Homo sapiens: one gene and its partners. The protein of the gene in region 1 purifies or fractionates together with the protein of each later gene. This does not show direct contact. Each region holds a gene or a part of one and is shown in the gene's direction. Other genes may lie near its edges. The genes, in order: TEX2, SIGLECL1, HTR2C and GDPD5.

Evidence for each region.
Region 2: the proteins of TEX2 (region 1) and SIGLECL1 purify together in Homo sapiens (co-immunoprecipitation; one large-scale study listed by IntAct). This does not show direct contact.
Region 3: the proteins of TEX2 (region 1) and HTR2C purify together in Homo sapiens (co-immunoprecipitation; one large-scale study listed by IntAct). This does not show direct contact.
Region 4: the proteins of TEX2 (region 1) and GDPD5 purify together in Homo sapiens (co-immunoprecipitation; one large-scale study listed by IntAct). This does not show direct contact.

What each region holds. Positions count from the first base shown.
Region 1 is NC_000017.11:64,149,922-64,158,278, reverse strand, and holds part of TEX2 (testis-expressed protein 2), read left to right. Parts: intron 1-3,311; coding exon 3,312-3,437; intron 3,438-5,124; coding exon 5,125-5,334; intron 5,335-7,317; coding exon 7,318-7,438; intron 7,439-8,357. UniProt on the Homo sapiens protein: During endoplasmic reticulum (ER) stress or when cellular ceramide levels increase, may induce contacts between the ER and medial-Golgi complex to facilitate non-vesicular transport of ceramides from the ER to the Golgi complex where they are converted to complex sphingolipids, preventing toxic ceramide accumulation.
Region 2 is NC_000019.10:51,255,135-51,263,491, forward strand, and holds part of SIGLECL1 (SIGLEC family-like protein 1), read left to right. Parts: intron 1-794; exon of another isoform or gene 795-898; intron 899-2,607; exon of another isoform or gene 2,608-2,766; intron 2,767-8,357.
Region 3 is NC_000023.11:114,899,355-114,907,711, forward strand, and holds part of HTR2C (5-hydroxytryptamine receptor 2C isoform a precursor), read left to right. Parts: intron 1-7,234; coding exon 7,235-8,061; 3' UTR 8,062-8,357. UniProt on the Homo sapiens protein: G-protein coupled receptor for 5-hydroxytryptamine (serotonin).
Region 4 is NC_000011.10:75,437,501-75,442,462, reverse strand, and holds part of GDPD5 (glycerophosphodiester phosphodiesterase domain-containing protein 5), read left to right. Parts: coding exon 1-100; intron 101-659; coding exon 660-817; intron 818-1,152; coding exon 1,153-1,300; intron 1,301-2,501; coding exon 2,502-2,584; intron 2,585-4,962. UniProt on the Homo sapiens protein: Glycerophosphodiester phosphodiesterase that promotes neurite formation and drives spinal motor neuron differentiation.

The sequences.
Region 1 (8,357 bases):
CTGCTTAACCTGTGAGATGTCCTCCTTACTGGTAGGAAGTTTGTTCACCTTTAGTTAGCACCCTGAGGGTTAGACTGAGATTTTAACCTGTGTAGCTTTGCCCTAGCAAAGTCTCTTCCCTTTGAAATATGTGTCTGCTGTATTTTCATGGGCATTTTTCCTTTAGTCTTTTCCCAAATAGTCCTTTTGTCGCACACTGCAGGTAACATAACATACAACATTCAGATGGGATTGAGATAGTAACCTGAGCAGCCTCTGCTTTAGGAACTGCCCTGCAGAGGGCCAGAATGAGTTAGTTAAAGGGAGCGCTCTGCCTTTTGGGTGGCCTTTAAATGGAAAGTGGCATGGAAGTGAAGTGTTTCCTATAAGGCACTTGGCCTCTTCCTGCTCCACCACTGCAGTCTGGGCCCTTTGTACAAGTCCCCAAGTCAGAAGGTGGCCCCATCTGACCTCTTTTGGGTTACTAGTTCACATCTACCCCAAACTACCCATCTGCCCCCAGGCCCCTGGTGTTCTGGGCACTGAGTGCCTGCAGTTTACACTGTGACTCAGTCTAGTTTGTGGGTGTGTATGCACATGTGTGCCTGTGGCAGGTGTATAGAACTGATTTTCTCAAAAGAAAAATTAGTGCATTCTTGAGTGTGGTCTCCCTCAAAGCAAACATCTCACAGGGCTTCTTAATTTAATTATGCGTCTTCATTTAAAGCATTTTGGGGGCTTCTTTTTAGAATTGCCTCCACAGTCCGTGACATTCTTTTAGCTATCCTGAGTGACAGCAAATTGTCCTGCTTTGTAGATGGTTTGGACCTTTGAGAAATTGCTAGAAGTCATCAGAGGTGGTGGTCATTATGAGACCAAGAAATAAAATATTTGGTCTAAGAGTGTCAGTGATAAAATAATTCACTTTTTCTTATATATCTGACATTTCCAAAAGATTTTTGGCAGAAGGAACATAACTGGAATAAGCCTTTTAAGGTGTCTCTTTGAAAGGATACCACACTCATCTGGAATTCTGAGGTGTGTTTAAAACAAGTAGGCTAATTACATTCCAGCACGTCTTCTACAAGTAAGTGTGGTGTATCTTCCTCTGAAGTTCATGCTGAGGTCATAAAATGCATGTTCATTTATAAAAATGAATATCAGGCAAACACTGGGCTACACTTATAATTCCTAAGTATTGGGTGCCGCATAATACTGCCCCCAGCGCGGAGAGCAGAGGTACCACTCGGTCAAAATCAGATTTTCACATCATCTGATCAGCTTGAACTGGTACAGCATTACCTAAAGTGTTCACTTCAAGCCACAAAATTTGTCCTGTTCTGTGACCTGCAGAGGATTAACTCAGTAACCTGAGAGCTTGCCACAGCGCTCAGCCTCTGGCATCTTCTGCCCAGGGTTGGAGCTGCCAGATGATATGGCCCAGTGGGGACACAAGGAGCAGTGGCTCAGCAGATCTCACTGGGGTCCCAGAGCTTGCAGGCAGCCTTTTGTGCTTTGTGGGTGAGGAGCAGGCTCCCTGTGCTGTGGGGACAGATTTCACACCTGGCAGCATGAGGTCAGAGAGCCTCAGGCACTGCCATCCTACTGATGGAGAACTCTGATGCTCTTCTGAGAGGGGCGTGTGATCTTTGGGGATTTACATCTCTGACTTTCCTCACCCAAGACCCGGTTTAGGCTTTCATAGGAATTGAATTTTGCTATATACATTTTAAATATAAGATTCCTGTGAGGGCTGCCTAACCACAGCACACTCTGATATGGCTCTGCAGCCAGTGGATACACATAAGCATTTCCTGGACCAGCCAGGCCTCTGGTGGAAGGAGGAAGACTCAGTTACGTGCTGTCCCATGGCCAGGGACAAGAGGCTTTTGTTTCTGCAGAGGGAGTTTCCCTTTAATGTGGAAGTCCAGCCTGTTGGCTGGAGCACTGGCTCTAATGTTTCAGAGTGGGGGTAGGGAGGAGCTGTGTGTCCTGCCAGGGAGGACACAGTCCGGGTCCTCTTACAGCCGGCTCCTGTTTCCAGTGTAGAGGTTTCAGTCCTACCCTCCCAGTGCACAGGGCTGGGGCCACTGCCGGGCCTTCAGTTCCACACTGGCATGTGTGCTGTGCCCTTGGGTGCCTTTGGCTCCTGTTGGTCAGGCGATAACTGTCCCCGTGGGCCTCTGGTGGCCCAAGGACAGCATCAGGAAAACCAAAGGACTGCAGCTGCAGGGAGATAGGCCCTGAGCCCCACTGCCTTCCCTTGTCCATGTAACTGTGTCCTTGTCAAAAATACAATGACCAGCCTCTGCTTGGTGACCATTTGGTTGTGTAATAGTGTTCAGAGACTACTCTGTCCCTTGTTCATTTTGTCCCATTTAAGTCTCTGGGCTCAGACACAGCCCTGCCAGTACTTTCTGAAGCAAAGCCACGGTCCAGGGAGGAAGCTGCTTTCTATAGGCCCGAGGCTCAGCCCAGAAGCCCCCAGGTCCCCTCCGACGGGAACTGGACCCCTCACCTCTGCGGGTAATCCAGCAACCCCACACCTCTGGAACTGAGTATCTGCCCTGGAGAGCTGAGTGAGGGACACTGCTGTCCCATGAGGCTTTCCCTTACTTCAGTCAAAGGAATGGTCTTTAGACATGTATTTTTCCGGAAAATTTCCTGGGTTCTCATGTCAGTTGCTTCCTAGAGTCTCCTGAGACTTTTTGTGTGTGTGTGTGTATGTGGTTGTTGGCTTTTTCTGTGACCCTCAGGAGATAGGGCAGGTGTGGAGTGAAATACGTAATTTCACTGGAAAGGAGTCATGAGTCAAAACTCACTTGGAGGGTTACTAAGCCAGAAAGCATCAGAGTTGCTGAATTAAGCCAGAGCCAAGGGACTTGCCTCAACATCCCATCATCAGTGAGAAGTGGCCATGTCACCAGTATAAGCTGTCACCTCACTCTTGCAACCATCCGCTCTTTCTGTTCATCCTCCCGTGTGGCTCCGCTGCACTGCTGGTTGAAATCACTGCATTTTATGTGCGCATCACACTCCCACCTCCTGTCCTTCTGACGCATGCTCAAAAGCAACCTCTTCTGGGTCCAAGGCCTCTGTGGTCCTGTCAGAGGCCTTGGTGCTGAAGAGTGTCCTGAGCATCTGCGCTGATCCAAGGATTCTTGGATTGGGCCTCTTCTGGTTTGGGTGGGTTGGAGAGAATGACGAGATGTAGTTAACAGTTACATCCCGACCCTGTTGTGGTTGAGTGTGTGTGCATGGGTGTGTGTGTTCTCTTTCTAAGCAGAGCTTGGGTGAGGGCAGGCAGTGGTGGTGACTCTCTCTCTGTCCAGTTGCAGGCCCCGGGCATTCTGTCTGGCGGACAGCGATGAGGAATCCTCCAGCGCTGGCTCCTCCGAGGAAGACGATGCCCCAGAGCCCAGCGGGGGAGACAAACAGCTCCTCCCAGGGGCTGAAGGGTGAGTGGATCAGTGCTTCTGTGCCTCTGAGTCTCCAGGGATCAGGACAGCAAGTTGGGAGTGAACCTTGTTTCCCTTCCTTCCTCTGTGATCTTCCTTCCTCTTTAATGTTGAGTAGATGGTTTTTTTATTAATATCCCAGGTCAGTGGTCTGTTTAAATTCCAGGCAACCAAGCAAAAAGACCCATATAGCTTTCCTTACTAAAATGGCTTTCTGCTGCTGTTTGATTAAATAATAGAGAAGTTGAAGGGTGTGCTGATGATGAAAAGCATCTCCCTGAGCCTTCAGAAGGAACCGAGCATACACCCCCTCCCCCCGGAGAGCCTCCCTCCCCTCAGCTTCAGCTGGAGTGCATTTGCTTCTGTTGAGCTGCAAGTTCCTGCAAAGCAGAAACATTCAGATGATTTTCTTTGGCGAGTTTTGAAAGCGCTGATGACTGAGCTGATCTTTTGGATCATGAACTTCATTTGGAGGGGGTTACTCTTTCCCTGTTAACTTGGGCTGTGAAATGATCAAAGTGCTTAAATAGCCTATCCACAATGATCTTTTAATTACATAAAGTGAATTGAAGAAACTAAAAGAAGCCAAATAATTCAGAAACTTTTATAAGAAAAAACCAACCTATTCACTTTTGAAATCCTACAGGAGATGAGAATTCAGATGTTTGAGGAGTTGGTGCCAAAGTTTGTGTGTATTATTTACAGTCTAGCTGCTTGACCCTCTTAAGAATGATTGCTTTTCCCTGAACACATACTTTTCCTCATGTTCTGGAACTGTGGGGGATTTTAAAAAGCAAATATCCTTTCTTCTGAGTCTCATGGTACATGTGACCTGATACAACAGCTTATTTTCTTGGCCTGTGAGCACGTCAACTTGGTGTAGCATTTTGTTTGTTTGTTTGTTTTCTTGAGACAGCATCTTGCTCTGTCACCCAGGCCTGGAGTGCAGTGGCACGATCATAGCTCAATGCAGCCTCAACCTCCTGGGCTCAAGTGATCCTCCCATTTTAGCCTCCCGAGTAGCTGGGACTACAGATGCACACCACCACTCCTGGCTAATTTTCTGTTTGTTTTTTGTAGAGATGGGGGTCTCACTGTGTTGCCCAGGCTACATTTTTCTTTAAGAAGTTCCAAGCCCTTTGAAAAGTAATTGCCACTCAAGGTAGCCATGTGACACCACCTAAAGACAGTCCATTAATTACTGATTTATGTCCTATTGATGCAGCATGATTTGTTACTTGCTGCATGGAGATTATGAGATTGATATGTCATTGGATTTCTGTCTGGTATTGGAGTAGTATAAAGGAGGACAGGTGAGAAACCTCTGCATGAGGACTTTGTCCAGCTCTCCATTGTCAAGGTTTGGACTGTTTCAGACATTTACACCTTCTCTGAAGTAGTAGTTCTCAACTGGGGGTGATTTGGCCCCCCAGAGGACATTTGCCGATGTCTGGCAACATTTTTTATTGTCATAACTAGGGGGAGTGCTATTGGCATCTGGTAGGTAGAGACCAGGGATGCTGCTGAACACCCTGCAATGCACAGGATGCCCCCCGCCCCAACACAGAATCACCACATCCAAAACATCGAGTGGTGCTCTAAAGTAAGGGGAACGAAGAGCCACAGGTTTTTGTCTGTGAAAAGAGCAAAGTTTGTGCTAACCGCCCTTTGTGTTCCACATTTGAAGGTACGTTGGAGGTCATCGAACAAGTAAGATTATGAGGTTTGTTGATAAAATTACCAAGTCAAAATATTTCCAAAAAGCAACAGAGACAGAGTTTATTAAAAAGAAGATCGAAGAAGTCTCCAACACACCCCTGCTGCTCACTGTTGAAGTACAAGAATGTAGAGGAACCTTGGCGGTCAACATTCCACCACCCCCGACTGACCGAGTATGGTGCGTAGAGGGCCCTCAGGGACAATAAGTGATTCCTCCTATTGCATGGCCACAGAAATCCCAGCCTGCTTAACCTTGAGGTTATGGAAAGTACCTTCTCCCGGGCAGAAGCACTTCCAAACAATTTTCATGGGACCTTAATATTAGTTGCAAATCTGATGGTACTTTCTTCTGTGAGTGGTGAATTCACATTCAAGAATTCATGTTCACATGGTAGGAAAAGTTAAAGTCAATACATGAAGTTTATGAGATAAGCTGTTTCTATTATTGGTCTTCCTCCTCTGTAAAGCCAACTGTTCTGCCAGTAATAACAGCTGTCATTTGTAGATAGCGCCTTTATTCTCTGCCTGGCCCTGGTTGTAATTGCATTACCTGATTAGTCCTCATAGCATCCTGTTGAGGTAGATGCCATTGTTATCCCTACTTTAAAGATGGGGATCACACATCCAACAGAGTCTGGGAAGTTAGGGAGACTTCCCTGAGTTAGGCCTCAATGCTGAGGAGTCAGGAGCATGTGCATTTGGTGTCTGAGGACTGGATTCTCAGCCCCAGCTGCATGTTAAAATCACCTGGGGACTTGCTAAAAATATAGCTATGCCTGGCCCATCCCCCCGGATTTCAGGGGTCGGGGGTGATGAAGCCAGGGTTGAGAGTCACTGAAATAAATTACTGATGAGTTCAGCATCACTGCCTGTGAATCTCAATTTAAAATTGACATGCTAAGTCCTATAAAAATGGGCATAAGTGTAAATAGTGATTGCATAAGAGATCTCATTGTACCATAAACTACACTCATAACAAAAATATAGCTCTGTTCTATCATAGAGTAAAACCAACATGCTAGTACATACCATCGGTATTCAGAAGGATTTGTAGGAATGATCAGAAGAGGGGTTTTGAATTGACTAACCATTTAACGATAATGCTGGTATTTCCCAATAAAACTTTAAAATGCCTTTTTATACTTTTTTAAAGTAATATTTTCATTGTTAAAAAAAAGAGAAAGATTGGGAAAAGGTGAAAAATAGATAAATAAATAAAAACCCATAATCTCACCATCCAGAAATAACCACTGTTAATATATTGTATGGTCTTTCAAACCTTAAAAAAATTTTAATAGTTAAAATTGATACATTTCTTCTCCTTACTGCCAATTCTTTAGATTTATCAGTTTTAAATGCCTCTGCTCAGGGGGAGATAAAATAAAAGGGCTCTAGGATAGTGCTACCCAAGGCATGCTCAAATGCTGAACTATGTGTTATTGATCCATAAAGATAAGTATAGAGTGTTTAGAAATATTTATGGCAACTTGACATTTTTACTGTATTTCCAAAAGCACTGGTCCAGGACAGATTTAAGGTTTTAGATAGTTGATAGCATACAGGGTCTTGTCTGGATACTTTGCCAACAGTTCTGATTGCCAGTCTGCTCCCTCGGGAAGTCATACAAAGCGTATTGTTGGGGTGTAGGATGAAAAAACAGGTTTCAAACCTTATTGATCGACATATGCACAGGAGAATGTAAGGGGAGTTCACCCTACTTCTGTCAATAGTCCTCTCTTGGGGATGACATTCAGAGAGAGGCAGTGTGTCTTTCACTCTCTGCTTTATCTGCTTGTATGTATGTTTTGTTTTTGTAATGTACATATACTACTTTTATAAAAATTGAAAGAAAAAAGGTTATTGCCATTTTAGAAAAAAACAGAAACCAATGCCCAGGTCATGGACTTTTCCAGTGGTGCTTCCTGGCTCTCTCAGTTTGTCAGAACTGTTCTAAATCCGCCACAGCCCTAACACCATCCAGGGAACACAGGGGGTTCACAATTCATACTTTGTGTGTGGAATATTTTTAGAGGGCATTTTCAGAAGAAAATAACATTTTAAGTAGTGATAAAGCCCCATGTAAATGAGAACTGTTTGCTGTCAGTGCCTGTCTCATTCCTTGCTTTGCTTCTAAATGTGGTTATTACTTGTCTTCAAAAAGGTATGGTTTCCGAAAGCCACCACATGTGGAGCTGAAAGCTCGGCCAAAACTTGGAGAGAGAGAAGTGACTTTAGTTCATGTGACAGACTGGATAGAGAAGAAACTGGAGCAAGAGTTTCAGGTAAACCTCTAGTGTTATCTAGTATTTCACACCAAGTATAGAAGCTCTGGGTTTAGCCGAGGTTCTGAACTTCAGCTGGGTCAGGATCCTCTTTTGAAAATCTGATGGTGACCTTCATCCCGGAAGAGTATTACATTTGATCAAATATGGGAATAAAACTTCAGGTACAGTATCAAAGCCCTGAAACTTATCCACAGAACATTACTAAGTCATCTTCAGAGGAAACCCAAAAGATTTGGGTCAGAGCAAAATGATGATGTCTTTTCCCAGCAAGCCTGCCAGGACTGTCAGGCTTTGTTTTCTCTTATGCAAGGCCTGGCCTTGCCCAACTCTTAGCACCCGGCCTGTGGGCAGGGAGGCTGCCCCCTGTTCTTGTGTGCTGTTCACCTTGCTCAGTTTGTTCAGTTCAACAAACATTCCTGGAAACCCTTCTGTGTGCCAGGTACCACCTGCCCTGGGAGTCCAAAGATGAATCTGGCCTCTCCCTCCCCTGGGTAGCTTCTAGTGTAGTCTGGGAGTTCATTAAGCCAGAGCTTACTCTCTCAGCTTTTCTTTCTGCATTTGGCCACCAAAGGTAATAGCAGTATAGCTGAGGCCCTAGGATGAGCTATTTCCATCAAACTTTTATCAGATATTTGAAGCACAGTTGTCTGTCGGGGTTTTATGGATTAGCAAACTATTTACTTTTAATGAAATTCACCTTTTGAAGAAGACCTACATTCTTTTTGCAGTGGTATATTTTGAGTTACTGCCTTAAAAAAATCCTCTTATTTAAAAACTAGAGATTAAACATAACTGATAACCAATTTCTGAAAAAGCTTAATGTCATCACCAAATAGAAAAGTACTTTGAACCTACTGAGGGGAAAGAACATCATGCCTTTTATTTTTCCCTTTTTCTTTCTTTTTTTTTTTTTTTT
Region 2 (8,357 bases), on another chromosome or scaffold:
CTGTAATCCCAGCTACTCAGGAGGCTGAGGCACAAGAATCGCTTGCACCCAGGAGATGGAGGTTGCAGTGAGCCAAGATCATGCCACTGCACTCCAGCCTGGGCAACAGAGTGGGGACCCTGTCTCAAGAAAAAAAAAAAAAAAGACTTAAATATAAGAACTGAGATTGTAAAACTACTAAAAGAAAACATCGGAGAAAACTTCTGTATATTTATATGTAATACACAATAAAAATTATTGGTTTGGGAAATAGTTATTTGGATATTTCTGCAAAAACACAGGAAACAAAAGCAAAAATTGACATGCAAGATTGCAGCAAAGTAGTTTCTGAACAGCAAAGGAAACAATCAACAGAGTGAAGAGACAACCTACAGAATGGGAGAAAATATTTGCAAAGCATCCATCTAATAAGGGGCTAATATCCAAAATACATAAGGAACTCAAACAACTCAATAGCAAAAAAATCAAATAACCCAATTAAAAAATGGGCAAGGACCTGAATAGGCATTTCATAAAAGAAGACATACCAAAATGGCCAACAAGTATATAAAAAAAATGCCTGACATCACTAATCATCAGAGAAATGCAAATTCAAACCACAGATATCACCTTATACCTATTAGATGGGTATATCAAGAAGGCAAAAGATAGCAAGTGTTGATGAGGATGTGGGGAAAAGTAAACCTTGTACACTGTTGGTGGAAATGTAAATTGGTATAACCACTATGGAAAATAGTATAGAGTATCCTTTAAAAATTAAAAATAGAACTACCATATGATTCAGGAATCCCACTTCTAGGCATGTATTTGACAGAAATGAACTCAGTATCTTGAAGAGATATCTGCACTCCTGTGTTCATTGCAGCATTATTCACCATAGCCCACACGTGGAATCAACGTAAGTGTCCATTAATAGATGAGTAAAGAAAATATTATATATGTATACACACATGCACGCACACACACACACACACCCCATTCAAATAATGTCATTTTGTTCAACATTGTCTAATCATAAGAGAAAAAAATCAATTCCCAGCCAGTACCAGTATCTGTGTGGAGTTTGCATGTTCTTATATATGGTAAAATTGGTTTCATTTTACATCATTTCACTTAAAGCAGCAGTTTCCAAGAACTGAATGATGATGTTAAGTGAGGATTTATTGTGCACACACACATACACACACAGTGGAAGTTATTCAGCCTTAAAAAAGGACATCTTGCCATTTGCAGCAACGTAAATAAACCTGAAAGACATTATGCTATGTGAAACAAGTCAGACACAGAAAGACAAGTACTGCATGATCTCACTTATATGTAGAATCTAAGAAAGTCAAACGCATGGAAGCAAAGTATAGAATGGTGGTTGCCAGGGCTGAGGGCTAAGGGAAATGAGATATTGATCAAGGGGCACAAAGTTTCAGCTAGGCAGAATGAATAAGTTCTGGAGGTTTCATGTGCACCATGGTGACTATGGTAAATAACACTGTACTGTATACTTGAAATTTTGTGACAGTAAATATTAAGTGTTCTCACCACCAAAAAAATGGTAACTGTGAAGTGCTGATTATGTTAATTCACTGGATTGTGGTAATCATTCCACAGTGCATACATACATCAAAACGTCATGTCGTACACCTTAAGTATATACAATTTTTATTTGTCAGTTATACCTCAATAAACCTGGAATTAAAAAACTGAAAATTCTATAATCTCATCTCTGATCACTGCTCTAACCATAGGTAAGCACTGGTATCAAATTATACATCATTCTAGATCTTTGTTTTACTCATTCATGTATGTATAGTTTTGAGTGTATTATATATGAATATGTAGATACATATTTACATATTATATATATAAAGCTTTTATATAAATGACAAATGATCCAGTTTTCATTTAAAGATTGTGAAATATTTCAGACATATAGAAAGATATAAATATGGTATAATGAGCATATACCCACCACCAGCTTAATATTGAAAACACTGGCTGGGCACGGTAGCTCACACCTGTAATCCTAGCACTTTAGGAAGCCCAGGTGGGAGGACGGCTTGAGCCTAGGAGTTCAAGACCAGCCTGGGCAACATAACAAGATCCCATCTCTACATAAATTAAAAAATTAGTCAGGCATGGTGGCACATGCTTGTAGTCCCAGCTACTTGGGAGGCTGAGGTGGGAAGATTGCTTGAGCCTGGGAGGTCAAGCCTGCAGTGAACTGTGAATGCTCCGTTGCACTCCATCCAGTCTGGGTGACAGAGCAAGAAACTGTCTCAAAAAAAAAAAAAAGAAAAGAAAAGAAAGAAAACACTACCCCTGGTATACTCCCTTCCCCAAACACATCTCCCACTCTCAAACATAGAGATCGCTGCTATTCTGAATTTGACATTTTATTCTGTGTACTAAGGAACTTAACCTTGCCTGAAGAGAAGTCTGGCCTTTGCCCTTGGCTTCTGGAAGACACTCCCTAGCTCTTAGAATGTCACACCTCATAGGGGTGTCTTTGTTTGCCCAGGGACCTTGCATCACACTGAATATTCTAGAAATGTGATTTAGGATGAGGGCTGGCCACACCAGATAATGTTAACAATGTGATTTAGAGTGGAAGCAATACCAGATAGTCTAACAATGTGATTTAGAATAGGGGCTTTGGATCAAATGGTATCAGCTCAACTTCAGGAGGAGCTGGATGCTAAGATCCACCATGAGGGAAGTCACCATGTTACACGATGGAGGCCCAATAAAAACACTGGACACAAGGCTTGGGTGAGCTTCTTTAGTTGACAGTACTATGCATATTGTCACACATTATCACCAGGAAAGCTAAGTTATGCTGTCCATGACTCCACAGGGAGAGGATAACTAGAAGCTTTGTGTGGGGAACTTCTGGCCTCTGCCCTGTATGTCTTCCCTTGGCTGATTTTAATCTCTATCCTTTAGTTGTAGTAAACAGTAATCACGAGTATAACAGCTTTCAGTGAATTCTGTGAGTACTTCTAGTGAATTACCAAACCTAAGGGTAGTTTTGGGGTTCCAAAACCTTGCAAATGATTTGAGAAATGAGGGTAATCAGGGATCCTTGATATCTTCAGTTGGTGTCAGAAATGAGGGGATCTTGTGGACCATTCCCTAACTTTTCAGTTGTATCAGAAATGGGATTCACTAGAACAGCCCTGACTCACTGAAACATATGGTTTGAAAAGAGGAAGGATGTGAAGTCAAGATGATAAGCCTTTGATTCCTGGGCTGTCCTGCGGTCACCTGTGCGTATAGAAATGCAGCTGTTCTGCAAACAGTTACAGGAGGTAAAAGTTACCATTGCTTTTTCAATACAATGGATCCAACCCCCAAGGAGCTGACCCACTGGATGCATAAGGAAACAAACTAAATAGGCAGTCCCTTGGCTATTTTTATCTGTAATCGTTAAAATGAAAGTGGCTGAGGCGGATCCTGATGCTGGCCCAATCTTGGGCTCTGGCCAGCCTGAGCTACAGCTGCTAGCCTCAGGGCTGTGGCTAAAGGGAAAAGTTAGGCTGAAATGACAGATGGCAAAGAAAATTAGAGTGGTTCACCAGAGAGTGAGAAAAGACGAACATTTCCAAGAGGGTGGAAATCTTTATAAACAGTTATTAAGAAATGAGATGAGTTAAGTGGACATTGAGGGAGTCTAAACAAAGGTCTCAGTGGAGCACTCTTAGAAATTAGGTGGAGCAGTGAGAACCTAGACTTGCCCTCCAGTGTTGAAGGTCCCCCATCAAGTCTGCTATATTTACCCTAGTTTGGAGGAATTTTAGAAGCCAGAAGGCAAACATGACAATGGGAAATCTGACCTCAGATCTCCTGAGGGGACGAACATGTGATCTAATCAAGATAAATGACAAAAGGGCCTGGGTTGCTTGGCCTGACCCCTAACTGAAGACCCAAAGTCATATGCATATTAGTAGTAAAATAGTCAGGGGATGGATAAGAGATATTTCTGGGACTCATGTGGGAGTCTTATACCTGCATTCCAAAAGGTTGGTGAAATTCTAATAGCATCTATGGTTAGATTGCGAAGACATAGGATTACAAAGTGGATGAGATTCAGGCGAAACTTTGGATGAAAATTGGAATGTTTGGACAGACTATGTAAATATGTTATGTGAATGTATTTACCTAAATGTATTATGAGGAAAGATATTGTGTCCAACTATGGAAGAGTTCCCCTACGTACTATTATGAAACAGAAGGCATGTAAATCTTCCCTTCAACCAATATTGATTGAATATGCTAAATAGGAACCAATAAGATTGCCCAAGCCCACACTAATTGTTAATTTGAAACAGTACAGGATATCTGGTGGACAAAACATGTTAGAAGCTTAACGTTTGCTTTATTTAGGCAGACTGGAGCTAAGGCCAGTGAGCACCACCCAGTGGTGAATGCTGGGATTTGGGGCCAGAAAATTTCCAATGGAGAGACAACTAGCTGCCTATTGGGCTTTGAGTCTGCCCCATCATTGAAGGATATAATAATCCTGACACCTGAAATCCTCATGATGTGTTTGTCATGTTGGAAAAACACTGTAGTAAGGAAGGCCATGCCCAAAAGAGTCTCGTAATAAAATGGAAATTGTTTATACAGGAACATGCTACCAGGGAAATGCAAGGAGGTCCTCGTTATATTTATGAACAGGTGGCTTTTTCCCTACTGAAGAGCTGCGAGATCCTATTATTACTTGAATGATGTCTATTAATAGCTCTTGATTGACCAACTAAGAGCGGTTTGATTTATGGATGGCAATTCCAAAGTGAATTAATAACATCCTGTTTGGAAGACTGGCACTCATACTGAGGAAGGCAAAAACAAGTCACTTCAGTGGGCTGAACTGCCTCCACATTTGGGTTTTTACCAATTCATGGGCAGTGGCCAATGGCCTGGCCATATGGTCAGGCAGATGGGCAATGGGAAACTGTACTATTAAAAGGATGCCTATATAGGGTACAGCCTTATGGAATTCACTATAGCCAGTATCTCAAAAGACCTGTTCATACCCCCTACAAATGATAAAATAAACAGAGAAACAGACCTCTTCCTCCCAAAAAGGCAATTAATATCCTACCTTTTATGCTGGACATTTCTTGGCAACTTTTAAAGGATTTTTACTACTTGTGTGTGCGTTCTTAAACACTTGATTTTGCCCGGTTTTTTTCAAATTTTAAAGAAATGCTCATACATTATTACTTATTTGTGTCTGGCTTTGTTCATTCAATATTTTATTTGTAAGAATGGTCCATGTTGTTGCATCTAGCATTAGCTCATAGGTTTTTGTTGCTGTGTAGTATCTCATTTTTTAAAATTCTCTGTTTACTGGCATTTGGATTGTTTACCTTTTTAGCTATTTTTAAATAATACCACTGTAAACATTTTTGCATTCCTTTGTGGCGTACATATGCACAAACATTTCTATAAAGTATACATCTGGGAGTGGAATTGAGGGTCATAGAGTATGTGTATCTTCTGCTTTGATAAATAACTTTGTTGCCCTGATTTATATTTCCACCAATAGTGTGTGAAAGTTGAGTACCACATTCTCACCAAGACTTGATATATTGTCTTGGATATGTACTGGTATCTGATGGTTTTAACAGGCATTTTGCTGGTTATTAATGAGATTTTAAATATTTTCATGGAAATTTTATTAAGATTTGTCTTATGATCCAGCTGTGGCCAATTTCTGTAAACGTTCTCTGTGTGCTTACAAAGAAATTGTATTCTGCAGTTATTGATTGCAGTATTCTCTATATATTTTTGGTCAAATTTGCTGATCAAGTTGTTGAAATCTTTATATATTCCAATAGTCTGTTTGTTCTGTCAGTTTCTGAGAGAACAGTGATTAAAATGTCACACTACTATTGTGGATGTCTGTTTCTCCTTTTATTTTTGTAGATTTTTTGCTTTATATATTTTTGGACTATGTTAGTAGGCAAACACAAATTTTAAATATATACTTTATTCCTGTTAATGTCAGCTTATCATTAGGAGATATGCCATTCTATCTTTGGTAATGCCTTTTGCTTAAAGTCTGCTTTATGGGATGTTAATGTAGGTATGTCTACATTACCTGGCTTTCTGGTTGGTATTTGCTTGGTGTATGTTTTCATTCTTTGGTTTTTTCTTTTTTTCTTTTTTTGAGACGGAGTCTTGCTCTGTCGCCCAGGCTGGAGTGCAGTGGCATGATCTCGGCTCACTGCAAGCTCTGCCTCCCAGGTTCATGCCATTCTCCTGCCTCGGCCTCCTGAGTAGCTGGGATTACAGGGGCCCGCCACCACACCCAGCTAATTTTTTGTATTTTTAGTAGAGACGGGGTTTCACCGTGTTAGCCAGGATGGTCTGGATCTCCTGACCTCGTGATCCGCCCGTCTCGGCCTCCCAAAGTGCTGGGATTACAGGCATGAGCCACCGCTCCCGGCCCATTTGGTTTTTTAACTGTCCTTTACACTTATGCTTTGGTTGTGTCTTTTGTAAACAGCATGGAGTTTGGCTTTGCTTCTTTTTTCCAATATGATGATCTTAGATTCATAACTGGATAATTTAAGCCATTTATATTTAGTTAAATCACTGATGTATTGGAGTTTAAATCTAACATCTAGGTACATGATTTCTACTTGTCCCAACCGTTCTATTCTCTTTTGTATCCCTTCTGTTTGTTTCTCTGTCTTTATTTTCAAACAAGCTTTTAAATCAAAGTACAATTTTATACAGAGAAGTATTAATACAGATAGTAAGTATACAACTCAAATTATCACAAAGGGAGCAGACCAGTGTAACCACCACTGAGGTCAAGAAATAGAACATTAACAACACCCCAAACACTCCACTCATGTACTACACCATTCATTACCCCCTTTATCCTTGCTATGTTCTGGATGCAAGCACGTTGTATGTGTTGCAAGTATGTTCTCCAGCCCTGCAACTTGCATTTGTCCTCCTTAATGGTATCTTTTGATGCAGAAATTAATTCTGATACAGTCCATTTTATCCATATTTCCTCATAGCTAGTGCTTTTTGGCCCTTTTAAAGAAATATTTCCTTACCTAAAACTTACCAAGATACTCTCCTATGTTGTATTAAAGAATTCCACTGACCAATGTGGTAGCTACTAACTACATATGGCTATTGAGCCCTTATATTATGGCTAGTCTGAATTGAAGTGTGCTGTAAGTGTAAAATATATACAAGATTTTGAAGAGTGTATAAAGAATGTACCAAATCTTAACAATTTTGTGTTGATTGCATGTTGAAATATTGGGTTAGGTTCAATATGAATAACCTAGTGAATAACCTAGGTTTCTTTCACTAGGTTAAATGAAACATCATTAAAATTAATTTTACCCATTTCTTCCTTTTTAATGTGGCTGCTAGAAAATTTAAAATTATACATGTAGTCCACATTTATAGGTCACATTATATTTCTTCACACAGCACTGTTCTAGAAAAAAAGTCTAAGGACTTTCCCAATGTCCCTAGAAGTTATTTTTATGTATGACATGAGGTAGGGGTCTTATTTCCTTTTGCTGTATGGCTGTCCAGTTATTCTGACACAATTTATTCAAAAGAGAGTCCTTTAACTTCTATGCAGTGCCATATTTATCCTAAACCAAGTGATCACATATGTATAGGTATTTTTCTAACCATATAGCCTGTCCCATTGGTATTTTTATTTATCCTTGTGTCAATACCATACTCTATGAATTACTATGTATGTATGTATGTATTTTATTTATTTACTTATTTATTTTGAGATAAAGTCTTACTCTGTAGCCCAAAGCTACAGTGCAGTGGCGTGATCACGGCTGACTGCAGCCTTGACCTCCCTACCTCAGGTGATCCTCCCACCTTAACCTTTCAAGTAGCTGGGACTACAGGTGCGTACCACCACACCCAGATAATTTTTGTATTTTTTGTAGAAACGGGGTTTTACCATGTTGCCCACGCTGGAATTACTATGGATTTTTAAGTCATGATATCCAGTAGGAATTGGAATTGATCATTTTTTTGAGACAGGGTCTCGTGCTGTCTCTTTTTTAATAGAAATTTACTGAGAACAAATTTATTAAATAAATGTCTACATGGGATATAAAAGGGAACATTGTGCCATGCTATACAATGTTACTTACACCATTCATTTCAAATTTTATGGCAAAACAATTATACTGTGGTAGGGAGATGTTGTTTTACACTTCTCACCAAACTAAACATTATCATATTTTTCCTGAGAGAATGTCAACACTTTGCTATCTTAAGTGATCACACCACTGCAATCCAGACTGGGTGACAGAGAGAGAGAAAGACCCTGTCTCAAAAACAAAAACAAA
Region 3 (8,357 bases), on another chromosome or scaffold:
TGGTATGTACGGACCTCCCGCCTTGCCTGAGTTGCAGACACCTTTGTTGGGGATCCTGGGGTCAGAGTATGTAAAGCTCCTGGGTCTCTGTGTGTGCCTGAGCAGCTGCTTTGCTGTGACTCCACACAGCTCTGTGTTGGACCCAAGGCCCTGGTGGCATAGGTTCACAAGGGGATCTCCTGATCTGTGGGTTGCAAAGATCCGTGGGAGGAGCATGGTTTCCCACGGTCGCACAAGCACTCACCGCTTCCCTTGACTGGACGTGAGGGTTCCCTTGGCTCTGTGTTGCTCCCAGGTGGGCCGTTGCCCCGCCTGGCTTTTCTTTGTTCTCCATCGGTTGAGTTGTTTCCCTGATCAGTCCCAAAGTGAGTACCTGGATATTTCAGTTGAAGATACTGTATTCACTCACGCCTTTTGTTCCTCTCTGTGAGTGCCGTGGACTGTAGCTGCTTCTAATCAACCATCTTGGTCCCCTTAGCATTCTTTTAATGAAGTTCTGTTGGCAACAAATTCTCTCAGCTTTAGTTGACATGAAAAAGTCTTAATTTTACCTTCATTTATGAAGTATATGATCACTGAACATAAAATTCTGGGTTGACAGATGTGCGTTTGTTGCTGTAGTTTTTACTTTATTCTTTTTAAAGATGATTTTATCTTCTGTCCTCCATGGTATCTGATATGACACCCTTGGATATTTCTTTCTTTTTCTTGCATTAAGCTTTATTTTAATGGGTTTCAAAATTCTGTAACAGATTTTTGGTCAGGGCGTTTCCATTAAAAAGTGTTGATTTTAAAAACTAAAAACTTAAAACTGCCACATGCAAAAAAAAGGGGATCCAGAAAACATTCTCTTTTTCTTCTGAAGGTTTTACAATGCATTGTCATCATTAATCAGTTTTACTATTAAACTTAAAAGGCTAATTGAAACAAACAGTTCTGAGACCATTCTTCCACCACTGATTAAAACTGGGGTGGCAGGTATTAGGGATAATATTCATCTAAAACTTCTGAGATTTCTGGTCAAACTTGGTGACCTTGCCAGCTCCAACAGCCTTCTTGTCCCTTGCTTTGATGACACATAATCAAGATATGATGTCTATCTCATATCATAAAGAGCAAAATGACTCAGAGGAGGATAGTCTGAGATACTGTCAACACACATGGGTTTGCCAGGAGCCATATGAATGACAATGACTGCAGCATCACCAGACTTCAAGAACTCCTGTCAGCCTGAAATAGTATGGTTTTCTAGGTATCCTTGAAAAAAAATTTCCTCTCCATGCAAAATAACCCATGGAAACAGATAACCCTGCAGGTTAACAATAATTTCCCTATGTTTTCATTTTGATGTTTATCAAGCTGTTCTAGGAAACGTATTCTCTAATCTCTTTTGTATCACTATTTATTATTCATCTCTTGGCAGTCTGTTTCCTGTCTTCACTATAATTGTTCTCTCTATAATCACCAATGACCTCTTCATTTTCAAAGATAGAGAAAATGTTTCAAATTCTAGATCTCTCTGTGGCATTTGAAACTGTTGCGGATGTCTTCTTCAGAACACTCCTTCCCTTTGTTCGTAATGACATAACTTTTCACTTACACTGAATTGTTGTCATGTAGCTGACACTCATTTTGCAAATTTTGCTGCTGGTAGTTTTGATCTTTCCAGAAGATGTCAAAAGAAGTTATTCAGACCAGTTTCACACATGTACTGACAATGACAACTATCTAATGACTAGTTTCTGGCCAACAATGATTGTAAGACACTATGGGTTGTATGAAGCATCACAATTTCAAAGATGTTAAAATCTGAAAGAAATGTGCCTCTTAGAATCATTGGCATATGACCTTATGGTTTGGAGAGAACTGATCTGTGTTGCTTGAATTCAAGGTTTTAAGAAATAATGTAAACATATTTATACATCCTCTGAACTTACCTCTTTTGCAGTAAAATAACTTCATCAACTAATGGGCTTTTAAGAGGCTGAAATGAGATAATGCATGTAAAGTATGTAATGCAGACAAAGTATCAGAGTCAGTAAGCACTCATAATAAACACTTAATGAATGATAGTAGTAGTAGTTGTAACAGCAGTAGTAGTTATAATAGCAGTAGTAGTTATAATAGTGGTAACGTTATATTTTGAATAAAATAGTGGTAGAAGTAACATATGATATTTTCAGTAAAGCTTTAACTTAACAATGTTAATGAATTTAATATTCTAAAATGCTAAGTAAGACTCTTATATGTTTACTGAAGGCACTCTTCCTCTCAGAGTTTAAGTAACCTTAATAAATAATAACCACTTTTCAGAGATTTGCAACAACTGAATTAGATAATGCATGTGAAATATATTTGACAGTTTATTAGTTGAAGAAGTACCTAAGGTTTGCAGCACAACATGAATTATAACTTACCTTTGTTGGTTCTAAAATTCTAAGGAAGATGATACAGAGTTATTGAAGTTAATCTCAGAAAGGTTAAGTGATTCCACCTAATAATTTATTTTTTTTTGTCTGGATTGAATAAAATATATATAAAAGTATATAACAATTGTGAAATATGTGGCTTAGTGCATGACAAATAAGCCCTCAGTAAAAGGTAGTTATTATTATTGGAATTATTGTTAGTGACACCTGATATTTTCAATGGTAGTTCATATCTAGTTTTCCTCTTTGGCCAAATCAGGAATTTCAAAAATATTGAAGATTGCCTCATGATATTTGCTAAACTTACTTAATTTTTCTGAAGTTAACTTCATCAAATAACATGTGCCTTGCGGAATTTTTATAAAAATGAATGATGAATTTAAAGTGTTTTGTTGCCAGTATTGCTGTTATTTATATTTACCAGACATGATAATATCGCATGAATTACTATTGGTTGAAATAAAAATGCTAAGACAAACTTAACACATTTGCTGAACTTAACTCTCTAGCACTTAAATAACTTAATGCATTAACATAGAACAGCAGTTCTCAAGCTCTTTGGTGTCAGGACCCCTTTATACTCTTCAAAATAATCGAGGACTCCAAAAGAGTTTTTGCTTATGCGGCTTATATTTATTGATATTTATGGTATTAGAAATTAAAACTGAGAAATATTTAAAATATTTAGGAATAATTTTATTTTCAATAATAATAATAAACCCATCTAAGGTTAACATAAAAACATATTTTTGAAAACTATAATCTCCAAAACAAATCAGAGAGAAAACAGGCATTGTTTTACAGTTTTGAAAATTTATTGTATTTATTTATTTATTTATTTATTTTAGATGGAATTTTGTTCTGTCACCCAGGCTGGAGTGCAGTGGCGGGATCTCGGCTCACTGCAACCTCTGCCTCCTGGGTTCAAGCGATTCTCCTTCCTCAGCCTCCCGAGTACCTGGGATTACAAGCATGTGCCATCATCCCTGGCTAATTTTTGTATTTTTAGTAGAGACTGGGTTGCACCATGTTGGCCAGGCTGGTCTTGAACTCCTGACTTCAGGTGACCTGCCCACCTCGGCCTTCCAAAGTACTGTGATTACAGGCGTGAGCCACTGCACCCGGCCCACAGTTTTGAAAATCTCTTTTAATATCTTGTTTGACAGAAAGAAAGCTAGATTCTCATATATGTATCCACATTCAAACAGTTGTGATATGTTGTTTTGGTTGAAATTTATGAAGAAAATGCAGTTTTAAAGACAGTTAGGAAAGGAAAACCTAGCAAGCTTTCTAACAGTCTCAGACACCCCCCTAGGGTCCTTGAATCACACTTTGAGAACTGCTGACACTTACCTTTTATTTTTTTTTAAAGTATTGAATAAGACAGTGTACAACATATATTGTTATTAATGCTGCTTTTGTTGTTGCTTTTTATAATTTCCTCATATGTTTGAAATAACTTGAATTTCTTCTTGTTTTGTTGATTGCATTCATGGTTTCTAAAAACAAAAGAAAATTAATGACAGTGCAGATTTGGTAAACTGGTTAAGCTACTTTGCCAAATAATACCTGTCTTATAAAGTTTTTAACCAAATTGAGATAATACATTCTACATCTGTAATGTCAGTAATATACATGGCTCAGTGCCTGGCACATAGGATACACTCAATAAATGGCAGCTATTAGAATCACCCTTTCCTCAATGCACAAAAAATAATACAAATAGATGCCAGGGATAAAATTGGCCTCATCTACCCAATAACAGCTTCAGCTTATCTACAGTGACTTTGCTACCCTCTCTTGCTGTCCCTTGACAAGGCCTACTTTAGGCTCAAGAATCCCTTAGACAAGTGAATAAATCATTTAACAGAAGCGAGCTAACATTACTCTGGAGTTGGTCTCTAAGTGATACAAACTTCCACCAATCTCATGGCCTGTGTGTGAGGCCTTCCCCAGAAACGTCCAAGTGTGTCTATGAATACTTAGAATATATGCAGCATTTCCTGTGGGAAATTGAAGGTACATGCCTCAGTCATGATGCCTCCAGGGTGAAAGCAAATTCCCCAGATTGAGTCTCTAGCCCCACGCTGTAGTATCTAAGGTGCTGGGTGGTTGGCAAGGTAGGAGATTGAAGAGGGAAACACCACTCCTGCATCCTTTATTGCTTTTGCTGTAAGGAACCTGGAAAGGTATAACAGAGTTTCCTATCAACACATTGTCAGAAAATGGCCTTCTTCCCTACAGTTTTATCAAACAGGTGGTTGAATGTTTCTATTTAGGGATCCAAATGTTTTTTTGCTCTGGAAGGAATCACTTCCAAGATTAGCAGTGGCCAATCAGTTTTGGAGACTTTTTAAAATCTGAGGCTTAACAGTGATGTTACTCTGTTTCAGAAAGGACCTCTATGTCTTCTTTTCTCTTTTTTTAAATTGAAAAAAATTATTAAACTTTCTGTTTCATAGTTGACTTTCAAAGATTACAAAGGTAGAATTATAAAATAAAGCCCATGAACTCATCATCCAGCTCCAAGATTTATCAGCCTGTGGACTGTCTTGTTTCATCCATACTTTCATCCACTTCTCCCTCCCGTATTATTTTGAAATAACTCCAAACATCATAATACTTCATCTGTAAGTGTTTTAGTATGTATATCAAAAAATAAAAGAGCTGTCTTTTTATATAACCACAATATCAATACCTCACCTAAAAATTAATGAACAATAATTATTTAATATCATCCAAAGGCCAGTCATTGTTCAGATTTTTAATTGTGTCATGAAAATTTTTAACATGTTTTTGTTTTCATCAAGATCCCAAGAAGATCCACATATTATAATTACTTGATAGATCTTTTAAGTATCTCTTAATATATAAGTTCCCCCTCTAACATTTTCTCTTGTAAATTTTTTTAAAGAAACTCTTTCTTCTTTTAAAAATCTTATATTAACTTTCTGCAGACTAATCCGTCACTAAAATATGTTATTAAGGTTAAGCCAACACTGATGTCTTTAGGGCATGTTTGATCTGTGCTGTCTAGAGATTACCTTACGTTTATGATTTTTCACATAAAGATTTAAACAACACAGTCTGGCAGCTTTCTTAACTGCTTTTTTTTTTTTTTAACTCTTAAGAAATATATTCTGTGTGGTTCTGCTGTACTCTATATTCCCAAATTCCTGTTGAAATTTCCCAGGCATTTCATCAAACTTGGTGAAAAATCACTTTCTCTTTTCTCCTTCTAATAATTGTCATTCCACCCCATCTAGGTGCAAAGGTCTCTGCTTTAGGATCTGGCCATGCACTACTTGAGGTGACTTACTGTTTGCAGTGCCTCCTCATTTTCAGTCTTTCCTACTTTCTTGAATGGTGTGCCTAGGTTCAGAGCTATAGGTAGGCATGGACCAATACCCAGGGAAGTCTTGTCATATCTGTTGTGGCTTCCTCACCCTGTTACTTGGCTTCCTACTCTAGGAAAAGGCCAGTCATTTTAGAAATTCCATGTCTGAGGAAGAAGACTTAAAGATCACTTTCAAAACACTCTCTTCTTTCTATCTTCCCAGAGATTAAACATCCGTCAACATTCTCAGCAAGCTCTAGCAAAGAAGCATTGACTCATTGTTTTTTTTCCCTCTTGATCATCCAGCCAGACACTCTATACCTGACTAGGCATGTTAAAGCAACTAGTAAGGACTTTCTGTTTCAGGTTTGTCACAGTTGCTTGTGTGTTCTCTAAGGTCAGCAAGGATCTCTGAGAATGCATTTCTGTCTCCTCTCACAGTTCATGATGTAGACACCTACCAGCCCAGGATTCCTAATAATCTCTAATGGAACCCCACAAATACAATCTGAACTTCCCAGGCTTCGACTTCCTGTGGACACAAGACAGGACAGCAATCTCTATCTGTTATCTATTTATCTCTATGTATTGATGCAGGACCTCTTGAAGACCTACTGTGGTTATTTCTGAAAGCTTCCAGATATCTTACTTATGCTCAGGCACAAGATCACCTTCTGCTCCCACCTCCTCATTGATATTTCCTAACTATGGGCCTATTTATTGAAGGAAGTGCTTCCCTAGAGTACTACCTCTCAGTATTCTTAAAACAAAAATGCTCAAAATTCCACACAGAAACTGGAGGACTGCATATCTCCCAACTCTACATTTTACCCTCTCTTGACTTTGAAACATTGCTCATGCCCAGAGACTCAAAATAAAACAAACAAACAAAAACCCTTGCTAAAAAGAGAATCTTTTCAGTCTCTGCTTATTGACTATTTCTGCATAGTAGTTAGACTCAGCCCAGCCATCCCTAATAGGCTATTATTACTATTACAGGTGGTATTTGTCTCATTTTTATTGAATTTGGAAAATGATATGCTAAAGAAAGAATGATTGGCTTTATTAATGTCATCAAGTACAGATGTGAATTTATTCATTGATTCAACAAATATTTATCGAGTGCCTTCTCTGAGCCAGGACGATTCTTGGAACTGGAAATCCAACAAATCTGACACAATCCACCCTTTGACACAACCGTGTCTCTAATATAGTTAATATCAATAAGGGTAATTCCATGCCTTCTACAGAATTTAGGGAGAAGGCATTCCTAACATGAAAAACGCCATCATTTTCTGATGCCATACTGCTAGTGTTTCATGTGACTATCGATTATGCCGTGAATAGCTTTCAACAAATATCAGGTCTGAATTTCCTTCCGTAAAATGCAAATTAATGTATGCCGTTGAATACATCTGTTCAGTCCTTCAAGATGCTATAACAACCCCCTTCCTTTTTCTTCCTTTAGGTGTATCAGTTCCTATCCCTGTGATTGGACTGAGGGACGAAGAAAAGGTGTTCGTGAACAACACGACGTGCGTGCTCAACGACCCAAATTTCGTTCTTATTGGGTCCTTCGTAGCTTTCTTCATACCGCTGACGATTATGGTGATTACGTATTGCCTGACCATCTACGTTCTGCGCCGACAAGCTTTGATGTTACTGCACGGCCACACCGAGGAACCGCCTGGACTAAGTCTGGATTTCCTGAAGTGCTGCAAGAGGAATACGGCCGAGGAAGAGAACTCTGCAAACCCTAACCAAGACCAGAACGCACGCCGAAGAAAGAAGAAGGAGAGACGTCCTAGGGGCACCATGCAGGCTATCAACAATGAAAGAAAAGCTTCGAAAGTCCTTGGGATTGTTTTCTTTGTGTTTCTGATCATGTGGTGCCCATTTTTCATTACCAATATTCTGTCTGTTCTTTGTGAGAAGTCCTGTAACCAAAAGCTCATGGAAAAGCTTCTGAATGTGTTTGTTTGGATTGGCTATGTTTGTTCAGGAATCAATCCTCTGGTGTATACTCTGTTCAACAAAATTTACCGAAGGGCATTCTCCAACTATTTGCGTTGCAATTATAAGGTAGAGAAAAAGCCTCCTGTCAGGCAGATTCCAAGAGTTGCCGCCACTGCTTTGTCTGGGAGGGAGCTTAATGTTAACATTTATCGGCATACCAATGAACCGGTGATCGAGAAAGCCAGTGACAATGAGCCCGGTATAGAGATGCAAGTTGAGAATTTAGAGTTACCAGTAAATCCCTCCAGTGTGGTTAGCGAAAGGATTAGCAGTGTGTGAGAAAGAACAGCACAGTCTTTTCCTACGGTACAAGCTACATATGTAGGAAAATTTTCTTCTTTAATTTTTCTGTTGGTCTTAACTAATGTAAATATTGCTGTCTGAAAAAGTGTTTTTACATATAGCTTTGCAACCTTGTACTTTACAATCATGCCTACATTAGTGAGATTTAGGGTTCTATATTTACTGTTTATAATAGGTGGAGACTAACTTATTTTGATTGTTTGATGAATAAAATGTTTATTTTTGCTCTCCCTCCCTTCTTTCCTTCCTTTTTTCCTTTCTTCCTTCCTTTC
Region 4 (4,962 bases), on another chromosome or scaffold:
GCTCAACCTGCGTGACCCGCCCCGGGAGCACCCCTACCGCAGCAGTTTTATCAACGTGACTCTGGAGGCCGTGCTGCACTCCGGCTTCCCCCAGCACCAGGTGAGGCCCTGCAACGCAGCTCTGCCCCCGGGAGCCCTGGCCTGGCTAGAGCCCTGCTGCTGCATAGCCTTTCCCTGTTGCACTCCGGACTTCAGCTTTCCCATTTGTAAAATGGGGATCACACACTGCTCACTTCCCTGGCAGGGTCATCATGGGACAAGAGGGGAACAAGAAAACACTTTAAAATGTATAAAGGTCCAGGCGGTCAAGTTATTTCAGTGAAGTGTTGCCCTGTCGTTTGGTGTAATAATCTGGGACCAGAGAAATCTGACATCAGTTTAGGACGGCACACTAGGTGCTAGTGGCCATGTGCAGAGTAGTGGCTGTTTGGGTTTTCCCTCCCGTACTGACAGCAGGCCAGAAGCGAAGTTTCCTGAGTTGCTGCCAGTGCACTTTGCAGCCTTGGCTGGGACTGAGTCCTGCCCTGCTAATGACTTCATCTAAGCTTTCACCGCCTGCCAGGTCCTGTCTCTTAACCCCACAGGTGCTCTAGGAGGAGTAGGTACTCTTACGCATCGTGCAGAAGAGAAGTCTGAGGCTGCCTCTCTTCTGCCTGCAGGTCATGTGGCTGCCTAGCAGGCAGAGGCCCCTGGTGCGGAAGGTGGCTCCCGGCTTCCAACAGACATCAGGCTCCAAGGAGGCAGTCGCCAGCCTGCGGAGAGGCCACATCCAGCGGCTGAACCTGCGCTACACTCAGGTGTCCCGCCAGGAGCTCAGGTGCCTGCCCTGCCCTGGGCTCCTCCAGGAGAGGGTGGGACTGAGTCTCTCCCAGTCCTGCCACCACCACCCCCCAACACACACACACACACACACACACACGGTCGGGCAGAGGGATGGGCACACAGAGGAATCAGGCACACATGGTTCAAAGACAAGAGGGTGAGCGTGTCGGGCAGACCCGGGCTTGTCCCGGAGCTTGGCCCTCTGGAGCCAATGTTCCTTGCCCCGGGCATGGCTGTGAGGTCGTGAACAGGACGTGCTTTACCAGCCCCGACACTGGGCCTGGAGCTGCCAGGGTCCGCATGCTGACCTGCCTCTCCCCTGCCCCACAGGGACTACGCGTCCTGGAACCTGAGTGTGAACCTCTACACAGTCAACGCACCGTGGCTCTTCTCCCTGCTGTGGTGTGCGGGGGTCCCATCCGTCACCTCTGACAACTCCCACGCCCTGTCCCAGGTGCCTTCCCCCCTCTGGATCATGGTGAGTTGGGGGGCAGAGGGCCCCTGGGGGGCAGTGCTGGAGCTGCCTATAGCCTGCCCTGACCACTCGGCAAGCTCTGTGCTTGGAGCTGTCCCTGGGAGGTCTCTAGCATGGTGGGGAGTCCATGGTGGGCGTGCAGGCTTGAGGCATGAGGGTTTCATGGCATCTGGGATCTGCACTAAGGTGCTGGGAGGACCCTGGGCCTCATCCACAGGGAGAAAAGCATCACTAAGGGCTCTAAAGAAGTAAAGAGCTGCTTGGGTTTCTTTGCTTTGGAGGGTAACAAGGACAGGAATAGGAAGCATTGACCGGGCGTGGGGCTCACGCCTATAATCCCAGCATTTTGGGAAGCAGAGGCAGGATGATCACTGGAGCCCAGGGGTACAAGACTAACCTGGGCAACCCTGTCTCTACAAAAAAAAATAATAATAATTAATTAATTTGCTGGCCAAGGTGGCACACGCCTGTAGTCCTAGCTACTCGGTAGGCTGAAGTGGGAGGATTGCTTGAGCCCAGCAGGTCAAAGCTGCAGTGAGCTGTGATCACTCCAGCCTGGATGACAAAGTGAGATCCTGTCTCAAAAAATAAAAATAAAAAAGAATAGGAAACAATTAAAATCTGCTCAGAGAACAGCAAATAAAGCAATATTTTAGCTGGTTGACTGGGCACCTGCAGATAGGTGGTGGCTCCACTGTCACCCTGAGCATGCAGAAGGCAGGTGGAGGGTATCCTTATGGCTGAGAGAATGCAGTGCCAATGAATCAGACCTAAGCTGTGGATGGTTCTATGGGAGAGGAGGGTGAAGGGAAGGCAGCCTGGGGAAAGGGTCGAGACCGATGGATGAGAGTCGGCAGCGGGGGGCGGCAAAGCCATTGTCTTTCAGTATCTGGCTCCTGCTTTGAGGACCCTAGACACACAGACCCTGCAGGCCTAGCACACAACCCCTCTGCCCTGAGCACCATACAGTCCCCTCCTACCCTGAGAGTGCACACGTGTGCACACACACGCCCCGGCCCCCAGGCCCACAGCGCCTGGAGCCTACACCTGCAAAATGTCATCTTCAGCCCCCAGACCCTCTCAGGGTCCTCCCTTGCCCTTCCCCAGTGGCCATGTGGGGTCCTTTGGTCCACGGACCCTCAGTCTGGAGCCTCAGTCTGGACTGGCCATGACTGGAAGTTGGCCTCGGGCCGTCTGTCCACAGCCCCCGGACGAGTACTGTCTCATGTGGGTCACTGCCGACCTGGTCTCCTTCACCCTCATCGTGGGCATCTTCGTGCTCCAGAAGTGAGTAGGATCTGACCACTTCCGTGGCTGTCCCTACCCTGCAGCAGGCCCAGCCCCCACCCCAGCCAGGTGAACCCTCTCCTGAGCCCTGGGCCTCAGCCAGGAGCAGGCCTGACCAGGGAAGAAGGACGGACTCCGGTGGCCCCATCCTCCCTCAGACAGAGGCTGGGTGACTTCTGGAATGAACATGCAGCTGGGATCCCAGAGCCAAGCTCTGCCTTGGGTGGCTATGTGGGCTTAGGTGAATTTCAGCTCCTCACCGGGCTGGCCTGCTCATCTGTTAGCCAGGGCATGGGTTCCCACCAGCCCTCAGCAAGATAGCTGGGGTGTGCTCGCAGTGGGGAGGTGTGGTTGGTCCCAGGGAGGGTCTAGGGCCAGCCTGGGGCCCCCACCCAGCCAGGAACCAAGGGGCTGGGATTTTATTCTTGACTGATGTTCTCTCTCTGTCCCATCCTGCTCTGATCGGCGCATGTCCCTCCTCTCTCCCCCTCCCCCTCTCTCTGCTGCACTCTGGCATCTCACAGCTATCACTTGATCAGGTAATTCTGGTGTGGTCTTCCTCCTCCTTCTGTTCCTCTTTCTCCCTCTTGCCATCCCTTCTCCAGTTCTGTCTAAAAACCCACCGTGCACCAAGCCCTGTGCCCGGGCCACCTCGCAGACAGCGCGCTCGCCTGAAGCCTCCCTTACCCCCGCAATCCTCTTTTCTGCTCCTCCCGTCCCACTGCCGTGTGTGTCCCTCTGCTCCCTGTTCCCACGGCCGTTTCTGCAGGTGGGGACCAGCGTTTCCTTGACAGCTTCCTGACCTGGCCCCTCTCTGCACCAAAGTGTCTCCCTGGGGGAGGGGACCCTGCCTGGGTACCCCCATCCCCCTGCCTCTGGCACTTACAGGGGCCTTCACCACTTGCCCAGGGCAGACCCTACCAAGTTTCTGCCTCTCTCTTCCCATCTTCTCCCTCCCTGGCTCTGCCTCTCCCACTGTTCACTCTTCCTGTTTACCTTTCTCTGCCTCTCCCATCTCTTTCTCTCTCTTCTTTACATTCTATCTCTAACACCCATCCCTGCTTTGCTCCCCGCAACACACAGCCTTTTCCTCATTCCCCTCAGAGGACCCCACAGTGGCTGAGCTTCCTGTTCTGGATATGCCTGGCCGAGAGACCCTGGCCTGACACTGTCCTTCTGGGTTTCAACATGAATTTCCAGGATGGGACCTAGAGCTTAGGGACCCACGTCTCCCTCCGTCTAGTGCCTTAGCCCCTCCTGGGTCAGGCAGCTTCACCAATCAGCTTCTAGGAGGAGATGCTGTCCCTGGCTATGGGACATTCCTTGAGTCATTCCTGTGTCCGCCCAGTTGACCAACATCCACATACACTGGTTGCTGATGCTGTCTGCAGCAGGAGTTGGGCCTTCTCACATGGAGCCCCAGGGTGCTGGGGAGGCCACCCCATGGTGATTCAGTGGCTGGCACAGACACGCTGGGTCTGCTCAGACACAGCCAGGGCAGTGTCATTGTCTCCTGGGGATCAGGAGAGGCCTGGTGGAGGAAGGTACCCTGGGGGACAAGGCCGGGGGAGGATACTCTTTCCCTGTGGGCCTTATTCTTCCATTCATTCACTCAACAAGTACAGGTCAGGCTCCCGGGACACGGCAGGCACTGATGGTACTGGGGCACAGCGATGAACAGAGAGAGATTTGCTCACTGCCCTCAATGATTCATAGGGCAGCCAGCCTCGCCAGGGTGTCCGTGCCACCCCCCGCCTCCTGCTTTCCCCTTGTCTGCCTGCTCTGTTCATCCATCCATCCGCCTGTCCATCTGTCTGTCCACTTCTGCTGCGCTGACCCCATCTAGTAACTCACAGTTGGTTTCTTGTGGAGTCTTGGCTCTCTCCATCCCCCAAGCAGGGTTCAGTCCCTGAGGCAGTTGGGTTCTTGTTCCCAAGTTGATCACCCCCTCCTCCTGGTGGGGACAGGGGTGAGAGTCCAGTGATCCTTCTGCCTAGATCCCAGGAAAGGTCTAAGTTCAGAGGCCAGGGACTGGGGCTAGTTCAGAGGAATGACAATAGTGAAGACAGTGGCCTGGGCTGGGCACAGAAACCTGAGTCCTTTCCACTTAGTGCCTGGTCCCTTCATGCCCTGTGCATGCTCCACCTCCCAGCCCACTCTTGAGTAATTTTACCCCCACCTTGCACCTGTCTCAGCCATCAGAGGGATTCATGCTCTGACCTCCCTCCGCATTAGGACTGCCAGGACAGAGCAGCAGTTGGCCCCACTCCAAGTCACTCTAACCCCCTTGCCTTGGGAACCTGTGCAGACCAGCTCTGGGCAAAGCCCCCTACCACCTGGCCCCACCCCCCTGCTTTCCTTCCCTCCCTCTCAAGGGG